3 separate regions of the Homo sapiens genome follow, and regions 1 and 3 are each linked to region 2. The links come from fine-mapping of genetic effects on gene expression. A gene starts in region 2. Each other region holds a variant in brackets. All regions are shown on one strand. Distances are between the middles of the regions. Region 1 overlaps FUBP3 (far upstream element binding protein 3). Region 2 holds the start of FUBP3 (far upstream element binding protein 3). Region 3 overlaps FUBP3 (far upstream element binding protein 3).

The links.
Region 1: its variant is fine-mapped to the expression of FUBP3 in breast (GTEx, PIP 0.98).
Region 3: its variant is fine-mapped to the expression of FUBP3 in whole blood (TOPMed, PIP 0.95).

What each region holds. Positions count from the first base shown.
Region 1 is chr9:130,632,687-130,635,186 of GRCh38, reverse strand. FUBP3 (far upstream element binding protein 3) reads right to left here. Exons shown (of 19, transcript NM_003934.2): 17 at 449-520. Among named protein-coding and RNA genes, the nearest start is that of MIR6856, 7.6 kb to the right of the region's middle. RefSeq lists an enhancer at 2,227-2,500. The variant C/T (reference allele first, on the strand shown) is at 1,520.
Region 2 is chr9:130,577,705-130,580,529 of GRCh38, reverse strand. FUBP3 (far upstream element binding protein 3) reads right to left here and starts at 953. Exons shown (of 19, transcript NM_003934.2): 1 at 766-953. The coding sequence starts at 849. LOC100272217 (a long non-coding RNA gene) reads left to right here and starts at 1,036. Exons shown (of 1, transcript NR_027440.1): 1 at 1,036-2,825. It overlaps LOC124902286 (a long non-coding RNA gene), which reads right to left and starts at 690. Exons shown (of 2, transcript XR_007061818.1): 1 at 282-690. RefSeq lists a silencer at 636-1,005.
Region 3 is chr9:130,637,523-130,640,366 of GRCh38, reverse strand. It overlaps FUBP3 (far upstream element binding protein 3), which reads right to left. Exons shown (of 19, transcript NM_003934.2): 19 at 2,015-2,844. Among named protein-coding and RNA genes, the nearest start is that of MIR6856, 13 kb to the right of the region's middle. RefSeq lists an enhancer at 1,520-2,115. The variant G/A (reference allele first, on the strand shown) is at 1,136.

The sequences.
Region 1 (2,500 bases), 55 kb before region 2:
CCAGGTAAGGCCTCCTTCCCTGAATCTCACCACCTCTCCTCATCTGCCCTGAAGCACCAAGACAGAGAACAAGATGTCTGGTTGGTCTGTTTGCCGGCCAGGTGGCACCCAGCCGGAATCTTTCAGTCCCTAAGGAGACCAGACGCCAGCTGAGCCCACACTTCCAGGTGCCACGCCCACCTCAAGTCCTTTGGAGCCCAGCACGGGGAGAATAAAGAGGAGGGGATGTGCCGAGTCGCAGGGCAGCCTGTGGTCACTGACTGACTATGCCCAGACTCCTGACAGAAAGAAGCAGGCAGGTACAGGGTGGAGGACGAAGGCAAATAATGAGATCAAGCCACACAGGGAAGGCATTAGGGAAAAAAGAGGTGACAGTGAGCCTTGGACTCTGAAGTCTCTGGGCTGGAGGGGACTGTGCTGCCACAGGTTAGGAGGGCCGGGCACTCACTCTGTTTTTTGTAATAGTCTTCCCAGGCCTTGCTGTAGTTGGGCTGGCTGCTCTGCGGCTGGCTCTGCTGGCCTGTGCGAAGAACACAAAAGCAGTCAGGCCTTACGGGCTCCTCACAGCCTCGGCCCCAGCCCGCCAGCTGCAGGCCCTGCCCTGCACTCCTCCACCTCGCTCCTGGCCACACACGGCTCCGCAGCCCTGCCTGGGAAGGAGGTGGCAGCTGGCAGGGCTGGGGGAAGGGGTGTAACTAAGATCACTGTAAGGGTGGGGCTGGGCACACGAGGCAACTAGCAAGGCTAGCCTGACCCTCTTCAGATGGAGACGCAAGCTTGACGGCCACAGCCACTGCTGTTCTGAGGCTCCCCAATCAGCCTTCCAAAGGACAAAGACTCCAGAGGCTGCTGACCACTCTCTTCGCGTGGCCCTCTGTTCAAGGCCTGGGGGCTGTGCCTCTGGACCAAGGGAAGTGGAGGGGCCATGTGGAGCAGGGGTAGGCAGCACCAGTGGGCTCCTGGACCCTGTCCAGCCTCAGGCCAGCTGGGGTAGGGCAGAGGGAAAGGGGGTGCATGTGTTTGGGTGGTCCAGCCCTTCTCTTCTGTGCAGGACCCTGGGTTCACCCTCTAGGCTATGTGGGCAGTGAAGACTGGGGGACGCGGAGAAACAGCCAGCATGGGGGAACAGAGCCTCAGCACCCTGCCAGGCACAAGAGGGGGTTCAAAGACTTGACCACAGTGGCGGGTCAGGACCTCTCCTTCTGCCCAGGCCGGGGCTGGCTCAGGTGTCCACCTGCCAAGGCCCACAAAAGACCCCCTCACTGTCTCGTCTCCTGTAAGGATTGTAGCCTGAAGCAGGGAGGAAGGGCAAACCACTGCAGAGAGCATGCAGCCAAATGCTTTCTCCACTAGTTCACTTTACTGCATACTGAGGAGCAGCGTGGGGAAGAAGCAAGCAGCGGGAGGAAGGAGGGAAGGAGACGCCCCGCTTCCTCCCACAGGGGCAGGGCGAAAGAGGGACACAGGCAGCAAACACTCTTCCCTCGGACGCGGAGGGCGCCGGCAAGCAGGACTTCGC[C/T]GCCAAACAGTATTTCACCAACCCAAACCGGTTCTCCACTGCAAAACCCCTGAATAAACAAAAAAAGCCAAGCTCCACAACATGAGATGAAGGCTGCCCAATGGCGGCAAGACCACCGGGTGCCTCCTGCACTCTCCCTTCCTCAGCCCACAGGCCTCTGCCCGTTCCACCCGCCAGGGGGCCGTTTCCCCTGAAGGCCTCCCAGGCCTCAGTGTCCCCAGAGTCAATCCTGGCCACCTTGCTGCCTGGAGGATTATCTCAGACTAGAACAGCAGGTGAGGAGCCGAGGAAAGGAAACAGGGTTAGCCCCTATGGCCAAGCGAGCAGAGGGAAAGGGGATGGATGGTGGGATCTGGGTGCCTTGTGGGTGCTCACTGCAGAGTGTTCTAAGATATTTGAAACGTTTCATAATAAGATACTGGGGAAAAAAAGGGAAGAAACACAACTATACAATTTCAGAGCATGCAAGTACTTTAGAATTCAAACCCAAACCCTTGATTTTACATGTGGCAAAGTGGAGCTCCAGAGAAGGCAGGGCGTGCCTAAGGCCACACAGCACTGGCCTCAGGACTCTGTGTAAGGCTGAAGTGGCAGAACCCCAGAAAGGGGGCTCAGGCCCTCCGAGCCAGGCTGTGAGGCGGGGCCTGCGGCCTGGGTGCTGTGGGAATCTGCAGACACTGAAGAAGCCTTTCTAAACACAGGACAGAAACTCCAGATGGGTCAAAAGAACGTGGATCGTACTAAGGTAAGGGTTCTGCTTTGCTTTGTGAAGGCCATGCCAGAGGGGCTAGACCAGCTCTGAAACCCAACAGTGGTTCCTGAAGCGTCTGTGGGGACAGAGAGGGTGGCGGCTTTGATTCCCACCAGGACTTTCTCCTTCACAACCAGCCTCCCTGGAGAGGCGGGATGCAGAAGAAGTCATTCCCTAGCTGTTTGCTTCTGAAAAGTTCAGGAGATGGAAGCCTGAGAGGGGAGAGGAAG
Region 2 (2,825 bases):
AAGTAAGTTTTAGATACAAATGAAGAACACGTTCTGTTCTAAGTACCATGCCAGAAGCCAGTAAGTATTTTTGGCAGGTCCCATATTCACTCTCTGGGGAAGCCTGGAGCCTTCTAAAACCCAGTTAATTTAACTTTGATTAAATGCACGACATTGTCAGACAGTAAAGTTTCAATGTCGGAATGAGGCCATATCATTCTCCCCAGTAGAGGCAAGCTTGCCATGAGAAATTTCTACATCTTGGGGACCACCCCCACACATGTAACACCTCCCTCTCTCACCTCTCCAAAGAGCACCCTCACATATAAGATGCCCTCGAGTTCCTTCTACTCAACAGAAAGTCTAAAGACGATGTTCCCCAAGTTTTAACAAGCTACTGGGCGTCAGACAGCTGCTTTATGTCTACACCCAGATCCTCCCCGTGGGCTTCCCGGACCCCTCCCCTCGCGAGGTTCAGAACCCCGCGCTAGCTACACTGTGGGTCCAGGCTGGCCGCTGGGGCACGATGGGGCCAGACGCTCTAAGCAAACCCTTTCCCAGCGACTTCAGGCACCTGGGAGACCCGCCCGACAGGCCGGGCCTGGGCCTCGCAGTGGCGCCTTATCCCCCCGGCTCCTCCCGGCTGTAGGAACTCCACGGAACGGCCCGGCCCGGCTGAGACGTCGGTTCAGGCTGCCTCCCGCCCCCCAGGCCCGAACCCCTCTTCCCCGCCCGCCAGGCCCCGCCTCGGGATCTCGTGCTCCTGCCAGCCGGCTGCGCCCGTACCTGCCGGACCCGGTGCAGGGCATCCACGAAGCCCTCGGCCTTCATCCCCACAGGAGCGCTCTGCCCCTGCACCAGCTCCGCCATTACCGCCCCCGCCGCCGTCGCCGCCGCCGCCGACGCCGCCGACGCCGCCGCTCGGCTCCCCGGTCCGGCCTCCCGCTCCGCTTGGGGACCCGTAGCCGGAAAAGGAAAGTCGCCCTACTTCCGGCGGAAGGGAAAGCCGGGACGCTCGCAGCTGGAGGAGTCGCGTCTGCGGGGCGGGGTCAGGGCACGTGACCTTCGACCGATCGGAAGTGGGGGCGGGACGGCAGCGCCGGGGTGGGCTCAGATCGCCAGGCAGCCGTGGGTCTCCAGGGTCCGGTCGCGACCCTTCCCTTCCCGGGCGGGATTTGGTCCAGGACCGTCGATGGCGTCTTGACAGGTCCCCGAGGCTTGGATGTGGTCCCGAGGTGTCCGCTGTCGGCCGTTTGGAATCTCAGAGGGACTGACGTGGCTCTCCCAAGACGGCACCCCGAACAGTCGTGGTTCATCAAAAGCCTGGTCCTGGGTAGCCCCTCCCTGAAATGGCTGTTGGTTGGGAATTTGGGGGCTGAGCGCTTTGAAAGGGCATTGGGACAGCATCACAGAATGTCAGTGTCCCACATTTGCGAGGAGTCCCGGGCCCCAGTTCTTACACTGCAGTTTGCATGAGGATGGGCCACCGCCACTTCCGCCTGGGGTTGTCTGGTGATGCCCCCAGGAGAGACGCGCCCACTGAAAAGCCAGCGTGGTGTCCTCTTACACGGTCCTTAACAAACTCTGGGACTCTGGGGGTGCAGGAAATACCACAGGACCGTCATTACTCCCATACCGGCTGAGTCACAACTGTATTGCAGGAGGCTTCTTGGAACGCCTATGTAACTTTAATGGAAGTGACCAGGTACAGATCTTCTACAGCAAGGAAGGAATCTTAGTGCTAGAATTCAGTTGAGCCTTTGAGTTGGCTCTTCTTATAAGTGAGCAAACAAGTAACAAGGTTTAGGGGGCGCCCATTTTTGTGTTAGCACGATTGCCCTCGTGTTTAATATTTCCCAAGCCCTATTATGATAAGGAGTTGGACTTAATGAAGAACCATGTTGTCAAACATCTTATGCCCATCTTGAAGTTGTGAAGGAGGATGAGCACCAAGAAAAGGAAATAAATAAAATCCAATACGGGCCGGGTGCGGTAGCTCACGCCTGTAATCTTAGCAGTTTGGGAGGCCAAGGCAGGCAGAACTCTTGAGCCCAGAAATTCAAGACCAGCCTAGGCAGCATAGTGAGACCCCGTCTCTACAAAAAATATAATTAGCTGGGCGTGGTGGCAAACACCTGTAGTCCCAGCTACTTGGGAGGCTGGAGTGGGAGGATCACCTGAGCCCTGGAGGTCAAGGCTGCAGTGAGCTATGATCACGCCACTGCAGTACAGCGTGGGTGACAGAGCAAGACCCTTTCTTGGGGAAAAAAGTCCCATATAACTTTCCTTGATGACCCCACCCTCACCCCTCACTGTGTCATTATGCCAAGAGAGCTTTGGGCATTCTAAAGAAGTATGAGGAATACTTGACCAATAACCAAAGTATAGTTATTTATTTGTTAATGACTTCTTTCCTAGACTGTGAGTTACTTTAGAGCAGAGACTTATTTTTCCCTGTATCCCTAGGGTGTGGCACATAGTAGGTGCTTAGTAAACTTATTTTGCATTCAATAATGCCAAGTAGAATAATTCATAGATTATGGCAAAATAAAAGAATTTGGCAAAATTGCAAGATTGAAGATTGCTTTCAGAAAAAATGTTCCAACCCCTGTTCAAAAGTACATAGCTTGCTGTGTTGTTGAAGTGCCAGCACGAGGAGGACCATGCCAACACATCCATTTATTGCCCATTCTGGGTGTGTTGAGCGTTTTAAGTTTGCTATGCTTGTAAAAATCAAGGAATGGCAATGGTATCAACTTTCATGAACACAGTCGTTCAGCTGAACCAAGTATCAGTGATAACTTCTGTTTTGAATTTTAGAAATATATCTCTGAGGTTAGAATGTT
Region 3 (2,844 bases), 60 kb before region 2:
GACCAGGCACTGCACTGTGCCATCTGTGCCCCAGCCGACCCTACCTTGGGGGCTCTGGGACATCATGGGTGGTCACCACTGTCGAGTGACCCTGGAAAGATGGTGCCTCCTATCTGATGGGAGGCCAGGGGTACTGATTGAGGCCCGCTGGCTGAGAACTCCTCAACCCCAGCCCAAACTTCTGGGTGGGGCTGGGATCGGCTCAGCAGGGTCCTTGATGGATCCTGAACTTGGGAGGCTGGCAGAGACCCAGTAGGCATGGGCGGTGGCGGGTGGGGGTGGGGCATGCATTCAGAAGACAGACTGGGCAAGCGCCCGCCCCGCCTCCCGGACCCCGACCGCCCTTACAGTGATGACCATGCATCTTTCTTAATGGAACACAACCGCTGAACTTGGTACATTTCAAGCACTTTAGCCTCCAGTACACCAGACTGCTGATGAAAATCATCTTCCTTGGGCGCCATGTTAATGAGAGGCCAAATTTCATATGCTTGCAAACTTTCCCCCCCCGCCTCCTGTCGTACCACACCCCCTCCCCCCAATAAAAGATTGCATCAGAGAGAAAGAGAGATTTCCATAATTTATAGTATGGGCATTTCACTGGGGACAAGCGCTAATCTGTACTTACCGATACATTTAAGAAAATGCATCCTCCGCAAGCCTGCGCCATTTATGACTCTTGGCACAAACCACAATGCTCAGTCTTCAATTAAGGGACACCTTAGGGTTCATTATCACACAATCGCTCCCTGTGAACCATGCCAAATGCTGTTTTGGCACAGAGCTTGGAAGATGAATTAGAAGGAAGTCTTCTCTGTAATGCCCTCTCCCGAATTCCCATTACCGTCATCAGCGTTTACGCCCTCCTCCCACTCGGCCCCCTCCCCCCACTTTCCAAGTGCCTTTTACTATTCAATTTCTCAACGTCAAACTCGATTCTCTAGAGGTGCAGTTAAAAATGCCACATCTCCTTTTTGTCTTCCGGCTCTCAACAGGCCTGCCATGGCCGCAGATGGGCTGCTCTCCACACCCCTTTTCGGCCTGAAGGAGCCACAGCTGCTTTTTTCCCCTCCTGTCAGAAGCTTGGAGTACAGACAAGGGGCCGGTATTGGCCAGGCACAGCCCAGCAAGCCCC[G/A]TTCAGGATGGAAACAGGTCTCTATATCTAAGTAGAGACCCGCACAGAAAGCCTGAGGGCGAAGGCAGGGCCCCTCAGACGTGAAAGCAGACACTGCTCAATGCCAGTCACCCCAACCAACGGGACAGAAGGAAAAAAAAAGGCGAGGGCTGATGCTATTACTTAATGCCCTTCCAAGTCTGAGGCCCACACTGTCGCCACGAGTCCTAAGACCACAGGACTGTAACTTAACACCTCTGGGGAAGGACGCCCCATTTGTTTCTTCATGAAAGGACAGGACATAACGAGCACGTGTGCTGATGCTTCCCAGCCCTCCTGGCGATCTGGTGTCCCACCGTGGGCACGGGGCTAAGAGCGAGAAAGCACCACCACCACAGCCACAGGTGAGGCTGGGGACAAGGAGGTGGGGGATGCAGGCAGCAACAGTCAGGGAAGCACACCGCGCCTAGGGCAGCCCACCTACATTTGCAGGCGAATGTGTGTGCATGGGCACGCAGGGAAGGGGAGCGGGCGGAGGGCAAGGGGCTGCCCAGTCAGTCGCAGAAGTCTGCTGACCCGCCGCACGCCCTTCAATGCATCTCCCAGCTCCATCCGATGACACTCCCATACTGACTTCTCACTTACAGATGCCTGACTGTGACAGGGAAGGGGAGCTGAGCCCAACCACGGCTCTCAAGTCAAGCTGTCAAATCATACAGAGCCATTAACATAAAATTAGCTTAACGAACTAGCTAGACATCTAGACTGTGCACCAACGAAGGCGGGTGGACGCGGTGCAAGATGACGGGCGAGGCCCGCAGGAATCCTCTTTCCCTCTCGGGCGGCCGCGGGCAGGGGCAGAGGGATGAACCGGCGAATGGAAAGCAAACAGGCCAGAAAGACTTTGCCCACAAGATGCCTTGTGGAGATTTTATTATATAGAGTGTAAAATGAATTGTCAGTCAAATAAAAAGAACACTTTGTTTTCTTAAAAACCCCATGCATAACATTTTCCAATTGTCTTTTTTAATAGTTAGACATTTCAAGCATTATAAGAAAAATAAGGAGAAAAAACCAGAAACTGTAACTTCAGTACATTTCAAACGGAATGTCCCTCAGGTCAATTAGAAATGCAAGAAAAAATAGCTTCAATTCCGTTTTTTTTCCTTTAAAAATACATGTTATCTGTACAAGATACACTACAGTAAACACTGGAAATCATATTATCCCTTTCATTAAATCAAAATTATTTAATTCATAATGCGGTTAATACTAGATTTATTTATTCATCTAGTTAATCTGACAAAATATTAAGAAAATATTTAAAAGAAAAAAGCAAACAACACCTTGGAATTAAAAATAGTTATAACTACATTTTTATACGGTTTAATGTTCCACAGTGTGTGTTAAAAGTTATATTGAATTTCTTAATATTAAAAATAACAGTATTTATATTTCTGAGATAATAGAGAAAGGTTTTTTGTTTTGTTTTAAAAACAAGCTTGGAGGTCTTAGATACACAATTGCAACTGGTAATGGAGGCATGAGAAAAACGTAGGCTAAACACACGAGCACATTTTTATATTACCCCTTTCGAACTCTAGAAATTATACAAACCCTACAAAATGCCCCTCCCAACCCCTGTTGGACAGCAATACAATTATCTGTCTCAGTTCAGAATTCACATCATTCATTACAATACATAATAGTTCAGTTTTTTTAAAAATGCA